Linked DNA regions of Homo sapiens: all the other regions are linked to region 2. Evidence: fine-mapped expression QTL. A gene starts in region 2. Each other region holds a variant in brackets. All regions are shown on one strand. Distances are between the middles of the regions.

Region 1 (5,259 bases), 180 kb after region 2:
TTGTAGCCCCTATTTCTAAGGCTCTTCTCTATTGTATAGTAGGGCTTGGGCCTCATCCTGAGACATGCTTTATAAACACACAGATTTTTTTGTTTTGGCAGTGTTATATTTGGAGAGAGAAATCTTTGGAAATTGCTTTTTCATTTGACAATCATTGAGCATGATGCAGTAAATCATAAAAAAATCAGCATTTTCTAATCCTCTCCTGTTTTTATAGTTGGCTATCAGCTCTTGAAAGCACAAAATGGCTCCATCACTTGTCTGTGCTTCTGAAATCAGCGCTTCTGGTAGTGCATGCTGTGGATCAGGATCAGCGGCCGGTGCTAGTACACTGCTCAGATGGCTGGGACCGCACCCCCCAGATTGTGGCATTGGCTAAGCTCTTGCTGGACCCTTATTACCGAACCATAGAGGTGAGCCCATCCAAATGGGAGGGGTTGGTACTTCAGGATGAGCCAGGGAAACGTCTCAGGAGTGATACCAGTTTTGGGAGTGGTGATTCGGTTAAAGAAAGTGAAATTTCTGTTTTGGTCATTGTTCCTTTATGCCATGAGCTAAATTGTGGTGGTTCCTCCCACAGTTCTTGCACCTCTTAAAATGGGGCAGATTATGGGTAACAAGGTATTGAGAATATAGACATATTTTCCTTTACAGTCTATCTACTTGTAAAAGTTTTTAGCTACCTCAGGAAAATAAGGAGTCTGTAAAAGGATCTTGGCATGCTAGATATTACCAGAGTGTTCTGTGGAGAAGCAGCTCTACCTGAAATAACCATCTGTTGGGTTAAAGATGAAAGAAAAATCATAAAGTACCCTAAAATATATGCAAGTATTAATTAAACTTGGGGTATAGAAGGATTTTACAGACTTGACTTTGTAACACCAGAGGCAGAAATGTTAAGAGAAATTTAGGGGAAAAGTGTGGTTTTTATATAGTGAACACAAGAGGCTAAAAATACACATTCAAGAAAGGCTTAGATAAACGCAGTCAGTACCATTTTAGTGATCATGGAATGGAGTTCAGGGAATTGGGAAATTTCCCTAAGTGTGTGCCTCATCAGGGATAGAGCCTTCCACCAAAGGGCAAGGCCGGGTGGGCTTTCTGGGAGGCTGTTAGAGGGGATTGCTTTCTGTGACACCAGGCTTAGGACTGTCACAGTCTGGATAGTCTAGCACAAATGGTCTCTCCTGGATGCTTCCCTGCAGGGTTTCCAGGTCCTCGTGGAAATGGAGTGGCTGGATTTTGGCCATAAATTTGCTGACCGGTGTGGTCATGGGGAGAACTCGGATGATCTGAATGAACGTTGCCCAGTGTTTCTGCAGTGGCTTGACTGTGTTCATCAGCTTCAGAGGCAATTTCCTTGCTCTTTTGAGTTCAATGAAGCATTCCTTGTAAGTTTCTTCATTTTGGGGACTTTCTCAATTTGAAGGAGGGTCAGTACAAATGTTAGTGGGCCAGTTCTCACATGAAACTGTGCTGCCTCTTCAGAATTTAATAGAGGTGATTTTTTTCCTGTTTCTGCTTTTTTTTTTAGTAAATAATTTTGCTATTTTCAAAAAGAGAAAATCCAGGTATACCAGGTTTGCATGAAGTCCTTGTGTTGTTTTAAACTTAGTTTTTTTTTAAAGGGATGGTAGAAACCCTAAATAGCAGTTAGAAATAGAAGCAATCAGAATGTCTGGACCATACTCCCTCCAGTCTGTCTACCAGACCCCCATGACTGTCTCAGACTCTGCACCCTCTCCTTTGATGGAGGGTACACTATCCCTGCCCTCTTTCAGCCCCTCTGTCCATTTGTATACCAGCTCTCATCTCCTCTCATCTGCTGCACTGGCTGGCTCCAGCATTTCTCTTCTCTGCCTTCTGCATCAGTGCGTTTCCCTCTCTACCAGAGCATGGGTTTCAGCTTAAAAATGTGTAGTGTCTCTCATCTTTTTAAAACCCATTCTTGGTCCTGCATTTACCTCTAGCTATCATCCTATTGCTCTTGTTCCCCTTTACAGCAGAGCTCCTCAAGTTTTCTACCCTTGCTATCTCAAATTTCTCTTTCCACTCTCTCTTAAACCCACTTCAATCAGGCATTCACCCCACTGCTTAACAAAGCTGCTCTTGTTAAAATGACCAGTGACCTTCATGCCACCAATCCAGTGAGAAGTTCTCAGTCTTCATCTCTTTGATCCATCATTACCATTTGGCACAGTTTAACCACTCCTTCCTTGAAATGCTTTCTTCAATTGACCTTCTAGTACTTCCTTGCAGTTGACTTCTAGTACTTCCTTGCTGTTAGTTCTCCTTTTACCTTACTGGATTGTTTCTGCCTCCTTTGCTGATTCCCCTTAATCCCTCCAGTT[CTTTTT/C]TTTTTTTTTTTTTTTTTTTCAGATAGTATCTTGCTGTGTCACCCAAGCTGGAGTGCAGCAGTGTGATCATAACTCACTGCATCCTCAAACTTCTGGGATCAAGAGATTCTCCCACCTCAGCCTCCCCAGTAGCTGGGACCACAGGCACATGCCAAGATGCCTGGCTAGTTTTTAAAAATTTTTTGTAAATAGACATGGAGTCTCGCTATGTTGCCCAGGCTGGTCTCAAACCTCCTGGCAAGTGATTCTCCCGCCTTGGTTGCCCAAAGAATTACAGGCGTAAGCTTCGACACCTAGCCTCCTCTCCCCAGTTCTAAATGTTGGAATGCCCCCTTGCTCAGCCTCCAGGCTGCTCCTCCATCCACACTTCCAAGTATTTCATCCATTCTAGTGGCTTTAATTGCCATCTGTATGCTGATGAGTCCCACATTTATACACCTTCAGCTTAGACCTCTCCACTTCAGACTCACGTATCTAAGTTACTACTAGGTATCTCCACTTGGCTGTCTTAATGTTGATTCAGACTTAATAAATTCAAAACTTGATGCTTCTTTTTGGAGACAGCATCTCACTCTGTCACCCAGGCTGGAGTACAGTGGCGCAAACACAGCCCACTGCAGCCTTGAACTCCCAGGGTCAAGTGATCTTCTCACCTTAGCCCCCTGAGTAGCTAGGACTGCAGGTGCGTACCACTGTGCCTGGCTGATGTTTTTAATTTTTTTTTTTTTTTTAAGAGATGGGGTCTTGCTTTGTTGCCCAGGCAGGTCTCAAACACCTGGGCTCAAACAATATCCTCCCACCCCGGCCTTCCAAAATGCTGGTATTAACAGGCATGAGTCACCATGCCTGTCCAAAACTTGATTCTTGATTCCTGTGTTTCCTCACTATAAAACTTGATCTTCCAGAAGTCTTCTCTCTCACCATATGGCATTTCCATCCCTCCTTTTGTTTGGGGCAAAATTCTTTGTCATCGTCAAGTCTCCTCCCTCCCTCCCTCCCTCCCTCCTTCCCTCCCTCCCTCTTCCACATTCAGTCAGATTCTGCAGCTCTGCTTTCGCAATCTATCTAAAACCTGGTTATTTATTGCCACCTTTACTGGTACCACACTGGTTCAAGCCACCATCATCTCCTGCCCCAATTGAGTTATCCCAGCATAGAGTCTCTTCTAAAACACAAGGCAGGCTGTGTCATTCCTTGGCTTAAAAACCTCTAGTTACATTTTACACAAAAGCCAAAGTTCTTAAAATGGTCTCCAGGGCCTTCCTAGAGGTTACCTCTCTAGGTTCATTTCCTACCATTCTCCCTCTTCTGCAATCTCCTTTAGTCACACTGGCCTCCTTGCTGTAGCTCAGAAATTGCAAGCATGTGCTTTACCTCAAAGCCATTGCACCTGTGGTTGCCTCTGCCTGGAGTGCTTCCCCTCAGATACCCACATGCCTGCTCTTTCAAGTCCACTGGGTCCCAGCCAGTGAGGCCATCCTGCACTGCCTCATATGTGTCCTGTCCATCTCAGTCTGCCTTGTTCTCCATAGCACTGGTCACTCTTCAGCTATGACTAGAGCAAGCTCCATCAGGGCAGAAGAATTTGCTGGTCATTGCTACATGCCCAGCACCTTAGTCATGTTTGGGCCATGTGAAATGCTCAATAATTTGTAGAATGAACAAGTAGTTTTACAAACATACTGTCAGCTCAGACTTGAGTTGTACACTGACGTGCTCCTGCACCCAGTTCATATGCTGTGGCGCTTGTGAGAGTGGCTGTTAATTCACAATCTCAGACTATTTATCACGGAAGCTAAGAGGAATAGGGGCACCAACAACCTGTCTGACTCAGGTTGTTGGGTCCTGGAATTGGTGGTGTGAGGAGGAGGAGGCTACTGCATGGCTTACTGGGTTCCCCGTCCTGACAGAGTAAATTGAAGTGTTCTCAGGGATGTTAGGATAAGGTGGCTCAGCTGAGCTGACTTATCAGAGTGTGCATGCCTGATTGCTTAATTTGTGCTTCATTGGACTTCCATAGGTGAAACTGGTGCAGCATACCTATTCCTGCCTGTTTGGAACATTCCTGTGCAACAACGCCAAGGAGAGAGGGGAAAAGCATACTCAGGAACGGACATGTTCCGTGTGGTCACTTCTTCGGGCAGGCAACAAGGCTTTCAAAAACCTACTGTATTCCTCTCAGTCAGAAGCCGTATGTATCCTTCAGCCTTTCCACTGTGGTCAGCAGAAGGAATTTGGGGTTGGTTACATATGAGAGCCTTTTTGAGTAGTGACTGTTTTTGTGAAGACATCTCTACTGTCTCTGGATGGACTGGTTCCATTTTTCCCCCATGATTCTGTCCTGAGGAAGGCCTGCTTCTGATGGTGCTCTGATCTGTTTCTGATGACTACTTGCTGAGGGTGGTTTGGTTTAACACAGATCTCTACTTTGCCACCCTAGACATGAATCTTTTTTGGCACTGCCTCCAGAGCTTATTTCTAGCATATTCTGTCTTACGGGAGAGGCACTTAAGTTGCTTCCTGATGCACTGATAGCTCAGAATGAGCTGCCACCAGGCCCCCAGCACCCTCCCAGTGTCAATAAGCAATGATACCCACCAAAGCTTCTGTCTCAGAACAGTAAACTGTGTTTGACATTGGTATGTGTGTCTGTCTGATTCTCTGCTCACATGAAGAGCTGGCAGGCCCTTTAAGACTTTGTTCCCCGAAGGAATGAATACCTTCTGTTAAGCAGAGAAAAGGAGGCACATAGACCTATGTGTCAGTTTCATAGTAATACTAGCTTTGTCAGAATGCATCTTAGACCCTAAAGAAGTCAAAAGGAGGCTAATCAGAGTTCATACTGATTTCCTGGACTATTAATATGGTTCTCATTACATTTAAGTAATCACAGAAAAGATTT
Region 2 (5,259 bases):
GCGGAAGGATCACTTGAGCCCAGGAGATCAAGGCTGCAGTAAGCCATGATGGCACCACTGCACTCCATCCTAGGTGACAGAGCAAGACCCTGTCCCAAAATTTAAAAAAAAAAAAAAAATTTTTTTTCTTTAAAAGAAATTCACTCCTACAAACCATTGCCTGCCAGGGCAATTCAGGGCTAGCCTGGTGTGGTGGTAGGGAGAGAGCGCTACAGTCCTACAGCCTGGATTCAAGTCCTGGCTCCACCTTTTCCTATCCATGTTGAGACCTTGAGACAGTTCCCTAACCTCTCTAACTTTTGATTGCCTCTTCTGTAATACCAGAATTGTAATAGTACATAAACTCGTAGGGTTGCTATGAGAAGTAATCAATGTGAAGTGTTCAACCCAATACCTGGCACATAATAAGCACTCAATAAAGTTTAGTTGTTGTTATTATTCAAGTCCCAACCAGAGGCAAGACACTTTGGGCTTCCTGGTTTATTCAGCAAACAATTCCTGAATACAATCTGGGTCCTAGGCATATAACTGACTATGATTTGGCATTAAAGCTGTAACAGGAAATGTCCAAAACTACAGTATAGTAGAGAAAGGAAGGATATTACAAAGAAGGTGATCTATAACCTGGATGTTGAAGGATGGGGGAAAAGGTGACATTCCAAGCAGAGAGCAAGCATGAACAAAGGCTCAGAGTCTTAAAATGTGTGGCTTTGGGTCGGGTGAGGTGGCTTCCGCCTGCAATCAGCACTTTGGGAAGCCACGGAAGGAGAATTGCTTGAGCCCAGGAGATTGAGGTTGCAATGAGCCATGATACGTCACTGAACTCCAGCCTAGGGGACACAGTGAGACCCTGTCTAAAAAGTGTGGCTTTGAAGGAAGAGGGAGACATTTGGTGTTACTGAAAACACAGGTCAGATAGGGGATGACAGAAGTGAAGAGAGAAGAGAAGCTGGATAGGGAAGACAGGACCAGTTTAAAAAGAGCCTCAAAATAGCTTGAACCCGGGAGGCGAAGGTTGCAGTGAGCCGAGATCACGCCATTGCACTCCAGCCTGGGCGACAGAGCGAGACTCCATCTCAAAAAAAAAAAAAAAAAAAAAAAGCCTCAATGCTACACTAAAGATTTTAGTATTTCACCTGAAGGCAGTGAGGAGTCATTTAAGTATGAGACAGACATGACCAGAAAGAGATGATGATAACCTGGTGGCAGAAAAGACCTTTAATAAACCACGAGAGAGCAAACAGTACGTTAATCATTTCATTCATTCCTTTTTTTTTGAGATGGAGTCTCACTCTGTCACCCAGGCTAGAGTGCAGAGGAACGATCTCGGCTCACTGCCACCTCTGTCTCCCGGGTTCAAGAGATTCTCCTGCCTCAGCCTCCCGAGTAGCTGGGAATACAGGCATACGCCTGGCTAATTTTTGTATTTTTAGTAGAGAGAGGGTTTTGCCATGCTGGCCAGGCTGGTCTGGAACTCCTGACCTCAGGTGATCCGCCCGCCTTGGCTTCCCAAAATGCTGGGATTACAGGCATGAGTCACTGCCCGGCCATTCAAATATTTTTGAACACCTATTATGTGGCAGGCACTGATGCCCAGAGAATATTAAGGTGGGCAAATAACAAACCTGCTCCTGCCCTTCACAGAGCTTACAGTCATAATGGGGAAAGACAGATACTTTTCCAATTAGCCATACAAACAAATAAAAACCAATACCATGATGTAGCTATGTAGATAAGGCTCATGAAGCTGTGGCAGCATTTAAAAGAGAGACCTGGCTTGAGGAAGAAGTGATGTCAAGGAAGACCTGAGTTTTTGTCTAAAGCACGGGTACAAATTAAGTAGGCAGGGCTGGGCGCGATGGCTCACGCCTGTAATCCCAGCGCTTTGGGAGGCCAAGGCGGGCGGATCACGAGGCCAGGAGATCGAGACCATCCTGGCTAGCAAGGTGAAACCCCGTCTCTACCGAAAAAAAAAAAAAAAATTAGCAGGGCGTGGTGGTGCATGCCTGTAATCCTAGCTACTCAGGAGGCTGAGGCAGGAGAATCGCTTGAACCCGGGAGGCGGAGGTTGCAGTGGGACGAGATCACGCCACTGCACTCCAGCCTGGGCGACAGAGCAAGACCCCGTCTTGGGGGGAAAAAATAAATTAACTGGACAATCTGAACTTTGAGCTCCAAAAGGACAAACAATAATCATGACTATGTCTGTGCCCACCACTGTATTCCCCTGCCAGGCAGGACAGCAAAAGCCAAAAGCTAAGAAAGGGAGGGGGAGCTCCCTACAAGCACCCAATTGCAATATGGCCTGGGAGCATCCCCGGGGCTACTGCTCCCTCAGCCTCTTTGTCATCATTCCTCTAGTCTCTCAATTAAATACTACTCTCCTCAGAGACCTTCTGATGGCTCTGCCTATAGTATCCACTCTCCCAGTTACTGTCATAGCTTTAATGACCTTGTGCATTTGCTTGTCGTTGACCATCTCCTCCCACTAGACTGTAAGCTCCATGAGGGCAGAAGCCTTGTCTGTCTTGCTTTCTTTGTATCCCCAATGTCTAGATCTGTGTCTGGCACATAGGAAGCACTCCACAAATATTTGCTGAACGAATGAATGAACCCTGAGGAAACTGAAGCCCCGGGTGTGAGGACGTGGGGGGATCGTGGCTGGTCCAACGCCACTCTGGGGCCGAACTTCGAACCCGTGGCTCCTGACCCTGGCGGCCAAGTCTCGAGAGGCGGCTCACAACCCCTCAGGTAGCGTAAGCGTGGGCCCCGCAATGGAGGCCAGAGGATGGGAGAGCCAAGGCTGCCCAAGGCATAGCCGCGGCTCCTCCGGGGTCCCTTGCCCTGCATCTGGCAGGGACCAGCCACGCACTCACCTCGGCGGCTCCACCACCGGCTCTGTGCCGCCGCCGCCGCCGCCGCCGCCGACCACGGTGACAGCTCCCTGAGCGCCCGCACTTCCGGGGTCAAACTGCGATTCCGCAGGAGCAGACAGGAAGTCTCGGCCTGGCCCCGCCCCCAGAGCCGAGCAAACTACCGCCGGGAAGCCGGACCCGGGTTGCGCCTCTCTTCTTAAGACTCCGCCCCACACTCGGCGTCTGTAGCCACGCCCCCTTCCCCTCCTATCTCCCTTCCTGCTTAAGCAGAGAATAGGTCAGCTGAGGGCGGGCTGTGTGATTACACCTCTCGGGAAATCCAAGTATGGCACCTGAGAGGACGTCTCGGAATCCCAGGCTTCCACCTTCTGCCCGACCTCCTTAGTCACCGTTTTACATATTTAATCCAGAAGAGAAATTTTAACAAGTCAAAAGCACGAACATAATGTTAAGCAGATGTACAAGTACAGACTGCGATTTCATTTACGGGAAATTCTAGAACAGACAGAACTCATGAGTAGTGATGGTGTTAAAATTGGTGGTTTCCTCTGGGGCTGTGGGCTGGGAGGGGCCACAAGTGAGGCTGGGGTCACCCCCTGTCTTCATCTCGGTGGTAGCCATGTAGATGTGTTCACTTTGGAAAATTCATCAAATTGTACGCTTAAGATTTGTGCATTTTTCTGTATGTATGCAATACAGTTTTGTTCTGTTTTGTTTAAGGAAGTTACAAGTATAGCTATCCTAAGAGAAGGATGCAATTTTTTCTACAGAATGTCTCAGGTAATGTAGGTTTAGTGGTTCCTAAGCCTGACTATGGATCAGAATCATCACAGAAAACTTGTTAAGAACACACATTCCTGGCTTCATCTCAGTGCCTGGTACACAGTAAGAATTCAAAACCAACCACCATCATTATTGGGGTGTTATAGAAGCCCCCGAATGGAGAACACAACCCCACCCTGGGATTGTGAAATATTTCCCAGGACACTCCTGCCAACCCCTGCTATCTGCACTAGGGCTACAAGGAATGCTTAGTTCAGTGCCTGTCTTCAAGGGGCTTACAGGATAGGAAGTGCAAGAAAACCAATAGCAATGAGTCAGTGTGATGAATGCAGGGTGCTAAGGAAATAGGAGAGATGGGCTGTAAACCAGAAATGAGATGAGAGGGGCTGGATATTATATTAGTTTTGTATTGCTGCATAACATATTACCACAAACTTATAACAACACACTGCTTGCCACTTATAACAAACACATTTATTTATTTATTTATTTTGAGACAGAGTCTCACTCTGTCACCAGGCTGGAGTGCAGTGGTGTGATCTTGGCTCACTGTAACCTCTGCCTCCCGGAGGTTACAGTGGGTTCAAGCGATTCTCCTGCCTCAGCCTCCCAAGTAGGCAGGACTACAGGCATGAGCCACCAGGCCCAGCTAATTTTTGTATTTTTAGTAGAGACGGAGTTTCACCATGTTGGCCAGGATGGTCTCGATCTCTTGACGTCGTGATCCGCCTGCCTCAGCCTTCCAAAGTGCTGGGGTTACAGGCGTGAGCCACCACACCTGGCCAACAAACATATTTATTATCTCACATTTTCTGTGGGCCAGGAATCTGAGGATGGCATAGCTGGCTCCTCTGCATCAGGGTCACCCACAAGACTGCAATCAAGATATCGGCCAGGGCTGGAGTCTCATTTAAAGGCTCAACTCAAAAAGGATCTGCTTCCCATGTCTAGTGGCTAAATTCAGTTCCTTAATGGTTGTTGGACTAAGGGTCTCAGTTCCTAGCTGGATTTTGGCTAAAGGCTTGTCACGTAGGCTTCTCCAGTGTAGCAGCCTGCTTCATCAAAGCATGCAAGCCTAAAAGTTAATAGGGAAGCCAAGAGTGGTGGCACATGCTTATGGTTCCAGCAGGTTGGGAGGCTGAAGCAGGAGGATTGTTTGCGCCTAGGAGTTCAAATTGAGCCTGAGCAACATAGCAAGACCCAGTCTCTAAAAATTAAAAATAAATAAATAAATAAAAGAAGGCAATAGGGGCCGGGCACCGTGGCTCATGCCTATAATCCCAACACTTCGGGGGGCTAAGGTGGGAAGATTGCTTGAGCCCAGAAGTCTGAGGCCATCTTAGGCAACATAGCGAGACTTCGTCTCTACAAAAAAAAATTTAAAATTAGCCAGGCATGCTGGTGCATGCCTGTAGTCCCAGCTACTTAGGAGGTCGAGGCAGGAGAATTGCTTGAGCCCAGGAGTTCGAGGCTGCAGTTAGCTGTGATCACACCACTGCACTCCAGCCTGCACAACAGAGCAAGACCCTGTCTCAAACAAACAAAAGGAGGCAATAGGAGATTCTACTAAGAAGAGAGAAATTACAACCTCATGTAACCT
Region 3 (5,000 bases), 34 kb before region 2:
GCTCAACAACCCTGTGTTACATCCCTGAAGACACATCCATGGCGCTCTAATCAGCCTTCCCACAAAGTGTGGCAGGGATGTGTACACTCTCTGCCCTGCCTGGGGCAAGTGAAAAACTCCTGCGGGGCCTAAGGTTTTTATGTTTCCCCAAAGAGGGCTTTAGTTTAAATGGCTGGGAAGAGAGAACAAGCTGAGTCCTGGGCCATGAATGAGGGAAGGAAGAGAGGAAGGGGCCCCACCCCGAGGCAGCCTGGGCAGCGGGAGCCTCCTCCCACCTGTCTCTCCCACCTGTCTAGGTTGCGGTCCAGCTGGCTGAGGGTGGGGGCCAGCCGCTCCTCCAGGATATTGTTGATCACCTGCTCTGGGTCGTAGTGGTAGTACTCCAGGCAGGCCAGGATGAAGCCCTCACCAAGGTCTGGCAGCAGGTCCTTCACTTGGGAGATGAGAGAGTCCAGTTCCACCCCACACATGGCAGGGCCCACAGCCGCGGCTGCTCCCATGCACTGTAGTGAGAGCCAGAGCCAAGAAGGGGAAGGCTAAGTGGGCCGGTGATAGGGCCACAGGCCCCAGACAGCACTGGACTAGGCATCAGGGATCTGGTTCAAGTCCTGGGATTACCCCTCCTGCCTGTGGGAACTTTGTCAAGTGACTCAAGTCTCTCTGAGCCTCCATTTCCTTCTCTGTGAAAAAGGGGGCTCGTGATTGTTATGATTATTGCATGCCTGTATCAAAATATCTCATGTAACCTATAAATATATACACCTACTACATATCCAGGAAAATAAACAAAAAAAAAAAATAAAAAAAATTTAAGGCCGGGTACAGTGGCTCATACCTATAATCCCAGCACTTTGGGAGGCTGAGGCAAGAGAATTACTTGAGCTCAGGAGTTAGACCAGCCTGAGCAACACAGCAAGACCCCATCTGTTCAAAAAATTTAAAAAAGTAGCCAGGTGGCCGGGTGTGGTGGCTCATGCCTGTAATCCTAGCACTTTGGGAGGCCGAGACGGGTGGACTGCCTGAGCTCAGGAGTTTGAGACCAGCCTGGGCAACACAGTGAAACCCTGTCTCTACTAAAAAAATTAGCCAGGCGTGGTGGCATGCGCCTGTGGTCCCAGCTACTTAGGAGGCTGAGGTGGGAGGATTACTTGATCCCAGAAGGTCGAGGCTGCAGTGAGCTTGATCAAGCCACTGCACTCCAGCCTGGGTGACAGAGCAAGACCCTGTCTCAAAAAATAAAAAATAAAATAAAATAAATTAGGCCAGGCATGGTGCTCATGCCTATAATCCCAGCACTTTGGGAGGCTGAGGCAGGTGGATCATCTGAGGTCAGGAGTTTGAGACCAGCCTGACCAACATGGTGAAACCCCATCTCTGCTAAAAAAAATACAAAAAATTAGCTGGGTGTGGTGGTGGGTGTCTGCAATCCCAGTTACTCAGGAGGCTGACACAGGAGAATCGCTTGATCCCAGGAGGCAGAGGTTGCAGTAAGCAGAGATCGCACTATTGCACTCCAGCCTGGGCAATAAGAGTAAAACTCCATCTCCAAAAAAAAAACAAAAAACAAACAAACAAAAACAAATAAATAATTATATTAAATTAAATTAAATTAAAATTTTGAAGGGACTGTATGACTTACCAGCTGGGCTACTGGCTGTGTGACTTTGGGCAGGATGCTTCCCCTCTCTGAACCTCAGTTTCCTCCTTATAAAATGGGCCTATACCACCCACCTCATGGGGTTGTTTCAAATAGTTCAAAGATGGCACAAAACCCAGTGAGCACAGTACTTGGCACAGACCAGGCCCTCCATAAACAGCCCTGGTTTCTACCAATTCTTCCTACTAATCCAAGGTCCTTTTCCAACAAGTTTACTGACGGTGGAGGCGAACATCAACCACCAGAGCTGGACTGTGTGGAGATGCTCCCCTTTAATTACAATCTCTTTTTTAAGTAAGGGGCATGCATTTTATATATTGCTCAATGTGACTTAATTGTGTTAGCCTTTTAATTTAAGGAAATTTACAGATCACAACAATAAAACCTCCATGACTCTGCTAAGAAGCGAAATGGGGAAGAAGGTGGGAAAAGGTGAAGGAGGCCATTGTTCTCCAAGGCCCTGCAGGAATCACAGGGTCTGGGCTGGGAGGAAGGACTGTGGCATTTGTTAATGGAGCACTGAAGGCCAGTCAGGCTCAGGGTATTCCATGTGATAGCTCTGGGAATCCCAACACCTCATGGAGGTGGGCACTACATCTGTCCCCACCTTATAGATGAGGAACCAAGGTTCAACGTGAGTGACGTGCCTAAGGCCATACAGCTGCCAAGTGGCAGAACCAGGTCACACCCCTGAGCTGCCTCGCCTGAGTCTGTGTGGTCTTCATCTCTCTTATCATGCTGCCTCCCAACATGCAGGGGAGAGTCCTGGCCTTGGTGGCCAATCAAGACAGCCACAGATTCGGCCAGTCCTGGAAAAGCCTGGAGAGAAGGCACCAGATCCGAGGTTTCTACACTTGTTCAGTGGAATCCTGGAGCCCCACGGAGGGGCTTCCAAGAAGGCCAAACCATGGGACTTGGCACTGTTCCCAGTTGCAACCAAAGGAGCTCCACTTTTATCTATTTAGAGGAGAGCTCCGGGAAGGGCTCATGGAAACGTTCATGGAAAGTTTCGTCTCTTCATTTTATAGAGGGGAAGCTAAGGCTTCG[A/G]TAGTTGAAGCAACTTGCTCTCTCCTCACACACAGTCCAGCATGCCCCCAGCTTGGGACCCTCTAAAGGCAGCACAGAGCTGACCAGTTGCTTGAGGCTGTCTATTCCCCAAAAAAACTTTTTCCCTGAGTATAAAAGCAAAGAAGGGAGGTTTCCTGCTGCCCCAGCCTCTCAGATAGGGCCAAGGAGGGACAAGCGAAGAGGGAAAAGCGCCACTCAGACACATACCTCCTCTTCCTCCGAGTTCTCCGGATGTGATGATGCTTGACTGACTGCCTCTGCTGTCACCGTGACCCCGTTAGGCTCCCCATTAGGCTCCTCAATCACCGATGGGTCTTTAGCATCTGTGGCTTTCCGTCTGTCCACCCCTTCCCATGCACTCTCGACTGCCTGGAGGATGTAGGCAGTCCGCGTCTCGTCCCTGTGAGGACTTGTTAAGGGGTCTGTCTTAAGCTCCTAGCTCTGAAGCAGCATAATTTCTCAGTCCCTCCCCAGCATCTGACCACATGGTTCCTGCCAGGGGCTTTCTGGGCTATATCTAAGTGGTATAGCCCACGGGCACCTGGGCTGCATGGAAAAATGGGCCAGACTACAGCCACTCTGGCCTCACAACCTAGTGCCTTTCACTCAGCAGAAAGCAGCTCTGAGTAAAGACAGGGCCAGGGCTGCCATCAGAGTGTCCTGGGGCACAGGTATGGACGAGCCAGCAGCTCCTCTTTTGTACTGACTGCCAGGAGGAGGGCGTGGTAGGGCCACTGCCACTGGGCTTCCTGTCCAACCAGCTGAGGGCATTCTGCAAAGGCTGTGGGCCATCAGGTTTCCCTGAAGCAGGACTGAGCAATCTACTGCAACCACCAAAAATGACCCATAAGCTGGCTGCTCCTCCCTGTCCTTCCTCCTTGTTAACAACCCTGGGCACTGTCAAGCCAGAAATCTGAGAGTCCCCTTAGACTCCCTCACTGCTTCTTGTCCAAACCCTCATCATCCATGCTTGGATGCCAGCAACAGCCTCCTCACTGGCCCGAGCCTCACGGTGGTCCTGGGCCAGTCCATTCTCTTCCCTGGGCCAGACAGAGCTTTTCCAAAGTATAGAACTGCCCATGTCACTTCCTGCTTCACAACCTTCCGCGCTCCCCAGCGCTTGCAGGACAGAGCCCAAACTTCTTAGTGATGGTCACCCCAGGGCTGTGCACGTTGCTGGCCTTCACCTCACCTGCAACACCCCAATTCCTCCTCTTGGGAGACCCCTCCTTAAGGACTGCCCCCTGTACTCTATACACGTCTGTGGCTCTAAGGAGCCTGTTTTCTCTGTCCTCTGTCCACTGCGAACATTCTTGTCCTTGTCCTTGCTCCTGGCTTGGTGCTCTCCCATTCTTTCTGCTGTTCTTCTGCTTGGACATCATTTCCATCTGAGACCCCCACCCAGAGCTCTGCTGGGTGAGGCGCCACCTCTGGTTTCCTGCCCTCTGAAATCTTCCCACGTGACACTCTATCTAACTGCCTGTTTACTTGTCCACCTCCCCTCCTGCTGTGAGGAGGGGCTGAGTCCATCTTGGTCACATAGGCCCAGATACTCAGGAAACACAGACGGAAAATAGCACTGCATCTCCCCTGCCCCAAGCATCAGAGCAGCCATCTCCTCTAGAAAAGGCAAGGCTGGGACCTTGGCAGGCCACCTCGGACAGCTGGCTGACCCATGCGTTCTGGGGCTAAACCTCTTTCCACTCCTCTGGGTTCCAGCAGCCTGTCTCACCTCTGACCTAGTCAAGCTGGGCCCTGTCGTAGTGGGCTATGGTAGAAGGATACAAGACTGATGAGGCCTGCTGCAGCAAGCTGATGTCTTCGGCCACGGGGAAGAGTGCATCATAGTCCCGGAGGAACCTGCAGGCAGATGAGAGCAGATGGGATGGACAGAGCTGGGGCCACAGGAATGCTGTGCTGCTGCAGGCCACTCCCTGTGTTTGCAGCCCGACCTTATTAGAGCTGTGGTGGGCCTATAGCGGGGGTCTATCATGTAAGGCCTCTTGGGGACCTGTGGGAGGGTCATGGGCCCAGGCCAGCTCAGCCACACTCACCTCTTCTCCTGCAGCAAGGAGCTGAAGATCTGAAGGAACTCTTCGATGAAGCCCTGAATGTTGTCACAGCTAGAACAAGACACCAGGGAAGATGAGCTCATGCAATGCAAGATGAGCTGCAGCTCCTTTACACACCCGCTGCCCCTCTTTAAGGCTGGGGCCCAGTGGAGGAATGAGGCATTTTTCTTGGTTTCTCATCTCTGTTCAGCCAACCCCAGTGC
Region 4 (5,000 bases), 40 kb before region 2:
TTATTCGTTTATTGTTTTTTCAAAAATGACCTTTCCTTGCCAACAAACAAAAATTTAAGAAGCAGTAAGGCCACATGTGGCTTTCTGACTGAGCTCAAGGGAGCCATAGGGATATCTGGGGTATAAGAAAAGGGGGTTCCCAGTCCTCTTCCTATCACCCCCACCTCACTACAGCAGCCTTCTGTCTCTTCCACAGCTCAAGTTTCCATGTAAAATTTCACTGGAAGAAAATGTTTGGAAGCCCAACTCTGGTCACGTTACAGGTGAGGAAACTCGGGTGCATTGGGTGGGAGAAGGAACATGTTTGGGTCACAAGTGAGCTGCAGCACAGCTTCGGCAGGGACTGAGGCTTCTCAACTCACGGCTTTGCAAACCTGTGAAAAAACCTGGCTTGTCAGAAACATACCCAGGCCTGTGGAATGTAGCTTCTAGCCCTGCAGGGGAAAATCAATATGAGATGCCAGGCAAGAAAATCCAGCTTAGCTGTGAAATCGGGTCTCTGGAATGTATCAAGGGTAAGATAATAAAAAAAAAAAGAAAAGACACAAAGCCAAACAGAGCTTCCATAAAAATCTTCTATTAACTGGCTTTTGGTGCAGGGAGAGGCAGGCGTCTGAGTCCATCTCAGTCTGTCAGGCTATCTGCCTGGCAGCCAGGGCAGGTCAGGACTGCAGCCTTCAGCATGGCGGGCTAGGGTTTGCCTCCCTTCACATCTTTTTTTTTTTTGAGACGGACTCTTGCTCTGTTGCCCAGGCTGGAGTGCAGTGGCGTGATCTCAGCTCACTGCAACCTCCACCAGCCGGGTTCAAGCGATTCTCCTGCCTTAGCCTCCCCAGTAGCTGGGACTACACGTGTGTGCCACCAAGCCCAGCTAATTTTTTGTATTTTTTTTTAGTAGTCTTTATTAAGGACCTTCTCTGTGCCGGGCAGGGTATGAGGCTGAGTTGGGGAGAGATTCAGAAATGAAGAAGATAGAGATCTGCCCTCATGAACTCAGTGTAGTGGAGATGACAGACCAGTCAACACGAAATGTGCTGAACGGAAGCCCTGGAAACAAAGGGAATGAACTTGGTTCAGGAGGTCTGGCTGGGCATCTGTAGGAAGGGGTAATGGAGGCTCCACGGTAGGGGGTTACTTGATTGGACCAGGAGCCCCAAGGTATGGCAGGAGGGATGGTGCACTTGATTTAGACCAGGGAGAAATCTCAGTTCAAAGAAATCTTTCACATCCACCAGGGAAGGGGCCTGTGACTGTGACCTTGGCCCTGTACCTGGCTTTCTATGCTAAGCTGAAAAAGAGGTAGAGAGGAAGAAAAAGGAGCCCAAGCTTGTTCAGGTGGTAGGTGCCACTGGTAGGAGCACACCCATGCATTTGACACATATTTCCTAAGGGCCTAATAGGTTCCAGGACCTGTGCTGGGCCAGGAGACTGAGGAAGAATGAGAGGCATCACCATCCTTTCTGCTACACCTTCGGCTTCTGGTCCATCCCATCCCTGGTTCTGTGCAGTGGGGCAGTTCTTTCATGCTGTGTGGCCTCTGGTTATGTGGCTCCCTGGCAGGGCCAGGCAGAGAAGCATGGCAAGCTCCACCCACCCTAGCTATGCCCTGGAAGAAGACACAGGTAGGGACAGTGAAGCCCGGGCACCTGGGCAGCTTGTCCAGGGAGATGCAACCTTGGCCCCAGACCTCATTTGGAGCCAGAAAGGAAAAAGAAAAATCAGGACCAAAGCCAGCTGGGAAAAGATGCATCAGAGGCCAGAACTTCAGTCAAGCCTGGAAACACAGGCAATGGTGGCTGCAGAGACCCTCTGGAGCAGGTAGCTTCCTCAGCCTCCAAGATGGGAGCAAGCCCTGGGAATATGCAGGTGCCCCTGAAACCTCGCCACCTTTCCCTTCCTCATCTCCTCAAGCCTGTCCTTCAAGGCCCAATTCAAACTGGTCCTTAGCAGGGTGACTCCTGCCTTTGAACTTCTAAAGAGCCTGTGGAAGCAACAGACTCCTACTTTTCCAGGTGAAGAATCAGGGGATCCAGAGAGGCAGAGCAACCCTCTTAAGGTCACACAGCTACTAAGAGCAAAGCCAGGGCCAGACACAGGTCTCCTGATTCAGGTCTGCTTTGCCACTTCCTGGGCTGTGTGACCACAGGCAAGTCCCTTAACCTCGCTAAGTCTCAGTTCCTTCTCTTGGCACCCACTTCCCAGGGCTGA[T/C]GTGAGAAAGAAATGACATGTCGAAGCAGATCCAGCACTTTCTGGGCTCAACAAAGTGAATCCTGTTTCTTTTACTACAGGACTTTTCAGAGCCTTAATGTGCTCTGCGACTCCCCAAAAGGCAGACCAAGGGCACAGACACTTAAAATAAAATTTTAATTATTATTATTTTTTGAGACAGGGTTTCACTCTTGTTGCCCAGGATGGCGTGCAATGGTGTGATCCTGGCTCACTGCAACCTCCACCTCCCAGGTTCAAATGATTCTCCTGCCTCAGCCTCCCGAGTAACTGAGATTACAGATGCCTGCCACCATGCCCAGCTAGTTTTTTGTATTTTTAGTAGAGATGGGGTTTCACCATGTTGGCCAGGTTGGTTTTGAACTCCTGACCTCAGGTGATCCACCCACCTTGGCCTCCCAAAGTGCAGGGATTACAGCCACCACGCCCAGCCGGCACAGATATTTTTAGAACACATGTTGTCTTCCAGGGCACCATGGAATGGTCCAAAGGGATTAGGGGACCCTGCCTCTTGCCCACTGACTCCTTCACTGGCTATGATATACCTGTAGCACATGTATTGATGTCTCCACAACAGCCATGCTGCACCTCACCCATTCTCCAAACAGACCCTACATTTTCTTTAGGTCTTTCTACCTTTCCGTTTCACCCTGGAGCTCCAGGCCTGCACCCTGTGAGTTGGTTTTCCTGATGAGATATGAGGGGTATTGGAGACTTCTGGGAAAGGTATCCTAGGCTCTAGGAGAGACACAGGAAGACCTGGTCTGGACTATCTCCTGGCACTGTCATGTCTGGAAGCCATAGTAGAAACAGCTGCAGCCCCTCTGCAGCCTCAAAGGAAGTAGCCTGACCACGAAGTGAGGCCCCAAGAGACTGGAAAGATACATTCTGGATGATAGGTCAACCAAGCCTAGACGGCCCTACCTTACACCGCCTTGTCATGCAAGGGAACAGATTTCCTTACTACTTAAGCACTGAGTACAGCCTATCTGATTCAACAACGAACACATTTTAACTCCACTACCATCTGCAGCGTCCTACCTAATTTCTCATGGGATTAGGACATGTGTCCCTGCCGAAGTTCCTGTGTACCCCACCCCAGCACCTCCCACTCTGTCCTTACTTGTTTAATGGTCTTTCTTATGATCATTTGAGGGCAAGGCCGGGTATCCAGCTCACCCTGTTTCCCTGGTGTCTAGCATAGGATCTGGTGCTACTAAATCTCTTAATAAATATTTGCTGAATGAATAAATAATGAACACATGAATGGAGGCTTTGCCTCTTTGCAATCTGCAGCCCCTGGGCTACCCAGCACAGTGAGTCTCTCTGCGTGCCAGCCCAGAGGGCCCCAGGAACAAGGGCACAGTGTTCCAGAAACCTGGCCACCTCAATGCCAGCCACTCTGCTGACCCTGACAGCTGGGACCAGCCCCTTGGCAAATGCTCGTAGGTGACTTATGACCTAGGTGGGGTGAGATGAGACTTTACAATACCATGGGCCCTGGACAAAACCACAGATCAAGGTGAAAGGCCATATCCAGAGATGGCTAATCTCTGTGGGGAACTTACCAATCAGGCTTCCTGGATTGGAGCAGGGGGCCAGGCTTCTCGCCAGCCTGGAGGACCCCTTGTCTGCCCCTTGCCCACCGCTGGAGCTACAGAGGGCCATGCTGGCCTGGAATAGCGGCCACTGATCCAGGATAACATCTTTGGCCTGGGATCTGGGGGTGTTGCAATGTGTATGACTAAGCAGTTTGCAAGTGCTTCCTGTCCAGCCAGCCAGACGGCTTTGTAGTTGCCCTGCGCCAGTTCCCCAAGCCCTCAGCCAGCCAAGCTTTTAGCAGTGGACAGCCCTAGGGAGGGGTAACAGCACAGGGCCCTAACTGAAGAAGCAGCTGGCATTTCCGCCACTGGGGCTCCTACCACAGGAACAAGGCTGGCTGGTCTCCTCCCTCTCTGAACCTCACGGTCCCCATTCACGTGATGGTGAAAGAGCAGCCTGTACTTGTAAAGAAGTCCCCTGATTTCTAGATTCCATGCAGAACTTTGGGGGACTAGAATACATCTTATTTTGCTGTTCTCTACTTGGATGTTGTACTCTTTACCATGACATCCAACTCTCTGTCCCTCTGATGGGTCATCATTCCAACGCTGGGTGAACTCTCTTATTTTTTTTTCTTGAGACAGGTTCTTACTGTGTCACCCAGGCTGGAGTACAGTGGCACGATCACAGCTCATTGCAGCCTTGACCTCCTGGGCTTAAGTGATCTTACTGCCTCAGCCTCCAGAGTAGCTGGAACTATAGGCGTGTGCCAGCACACCCGGCTAATTTTTGTATTTTTTGTATATATGGGGTTTCGCTATGTTGCCCAGGCTGGTCTCGAACTCCTGGACTCAAGTGATCCACCTGCCTTGGCCTCCCAAAGTGCTGGGACTAGGCATGAGCCGCTGCACCCAGCCCTGATCTTTTCAAAACATAAAATATGCTGGCTTTGTCGGTTCATGGGACCCTTTGCTGTGCTCACTATGGCCTCGGGACCACTGTCCCTGTTGCTCTGCTTGGGAAGCTTCTCCTTCCCTCCTTTGCAGAAGTGACCCCTCCTCACCCTTTAGCTCTCGGTCCCATGTCATGTTCTCAGAGGAGCCTTCTTGACTGGGGTGAAGCCCTACCAAAGGCTCAGAATTCTGTGCACCTCCAGCTTGTAGTATTTGTTATACCTGCAATTTGATGTTGCTTGTTTGATGAGTTGATTAATGCAAACTCCACGTGGGCAG

The links. PIP is the estimated chance that this variant, and not a neighbour inherited with it, causes the effect. A credible set is the group of variants that fine-mapping cannot tell apart.
Region 1: its variant is the best candidate, but not a certain one, in a credible set for the expression of ASCC2 in whole blood (INTERVAL, PIP 0.89).
Region 3: its variant is the best candidate, but not a certain one, in a credible set for the expression of ASCC2 in whole blood (TOPMed, PIP 0.53).
Region 4: its variant is the best candidate, but not a certain one, in a credible set for the expression of ASCC2 in macrophages (Alasoo 2018, PIP 0.65).

What each region holds. Positions count from the first base shown.
Region 1 is chr22:30,012,151-30,017,409 of GRCh38, forward strand. It overlaps MTMR3 (myotubularin related protein 3), which reads left to right. Exons shown (of 20, transcript NM_021090.4): 13 at 218-413; 14 at 1,206-1,391; 15 at 4,378-4,548. All of the region lies in intron 4 of HORMAD2-AS1 (HORMAD2 and MTMR3 antisense RNA 1), which reads right to left. Among named protein-coding and RNA genes, the nearest start is that of MIR6818, 7.7 kb to the left of the region's middle. The variant CTTTTT/C (reference allele first, on the strand shown) is at 2,352.
Region 2 is chr22:29,835,302-29,840,560 of GRCh38, forward strand. It overlaps ASCC2 (activating signal cointegrator 1 complex subunit 2), which reads right to left and starts at 2,973. Exons shown (of 20, transcript NM_032204.5): 1 at 2,877-2,973. RefSeq lists an enhancer at 3,246-3,305.
Region 3 is chr22:29,801,706-29,806,705 of GRCh38, forward strand. It overlaps ASCC2 (activating signal cointegrator 1 complex subunit 2), which reads right to left. Exons shown (of 20, transcript NM_032204.5): 11 at 4,780-4,848; 12 at 4,511-4,585; 13 at 2,933-3,125; 14 at 289-503. Among named protein-coding and RNA genes, the nearest start is that of ASCC2, 34 kb to the right of the region's middle. The variant A/G (reference allele first, on the strand shown) is at 2,705.
Region 4 is chr22:29,795,401-29,800,400 of GRCh38, forward strand. All of the region lies in intron 15 of ASCC2 (activating signal cointegrator 1 complex subunit 2), which reads right to left. Among named protein-coding and RNA genes, the nearest start is that of UQCR10, 31 kb to the left of the region's middle. RefSeq lists enhancers at 3,289-3,789, 3,790-4,290. The variant T/C (reference allele first, on the strand shown) is at 2,209.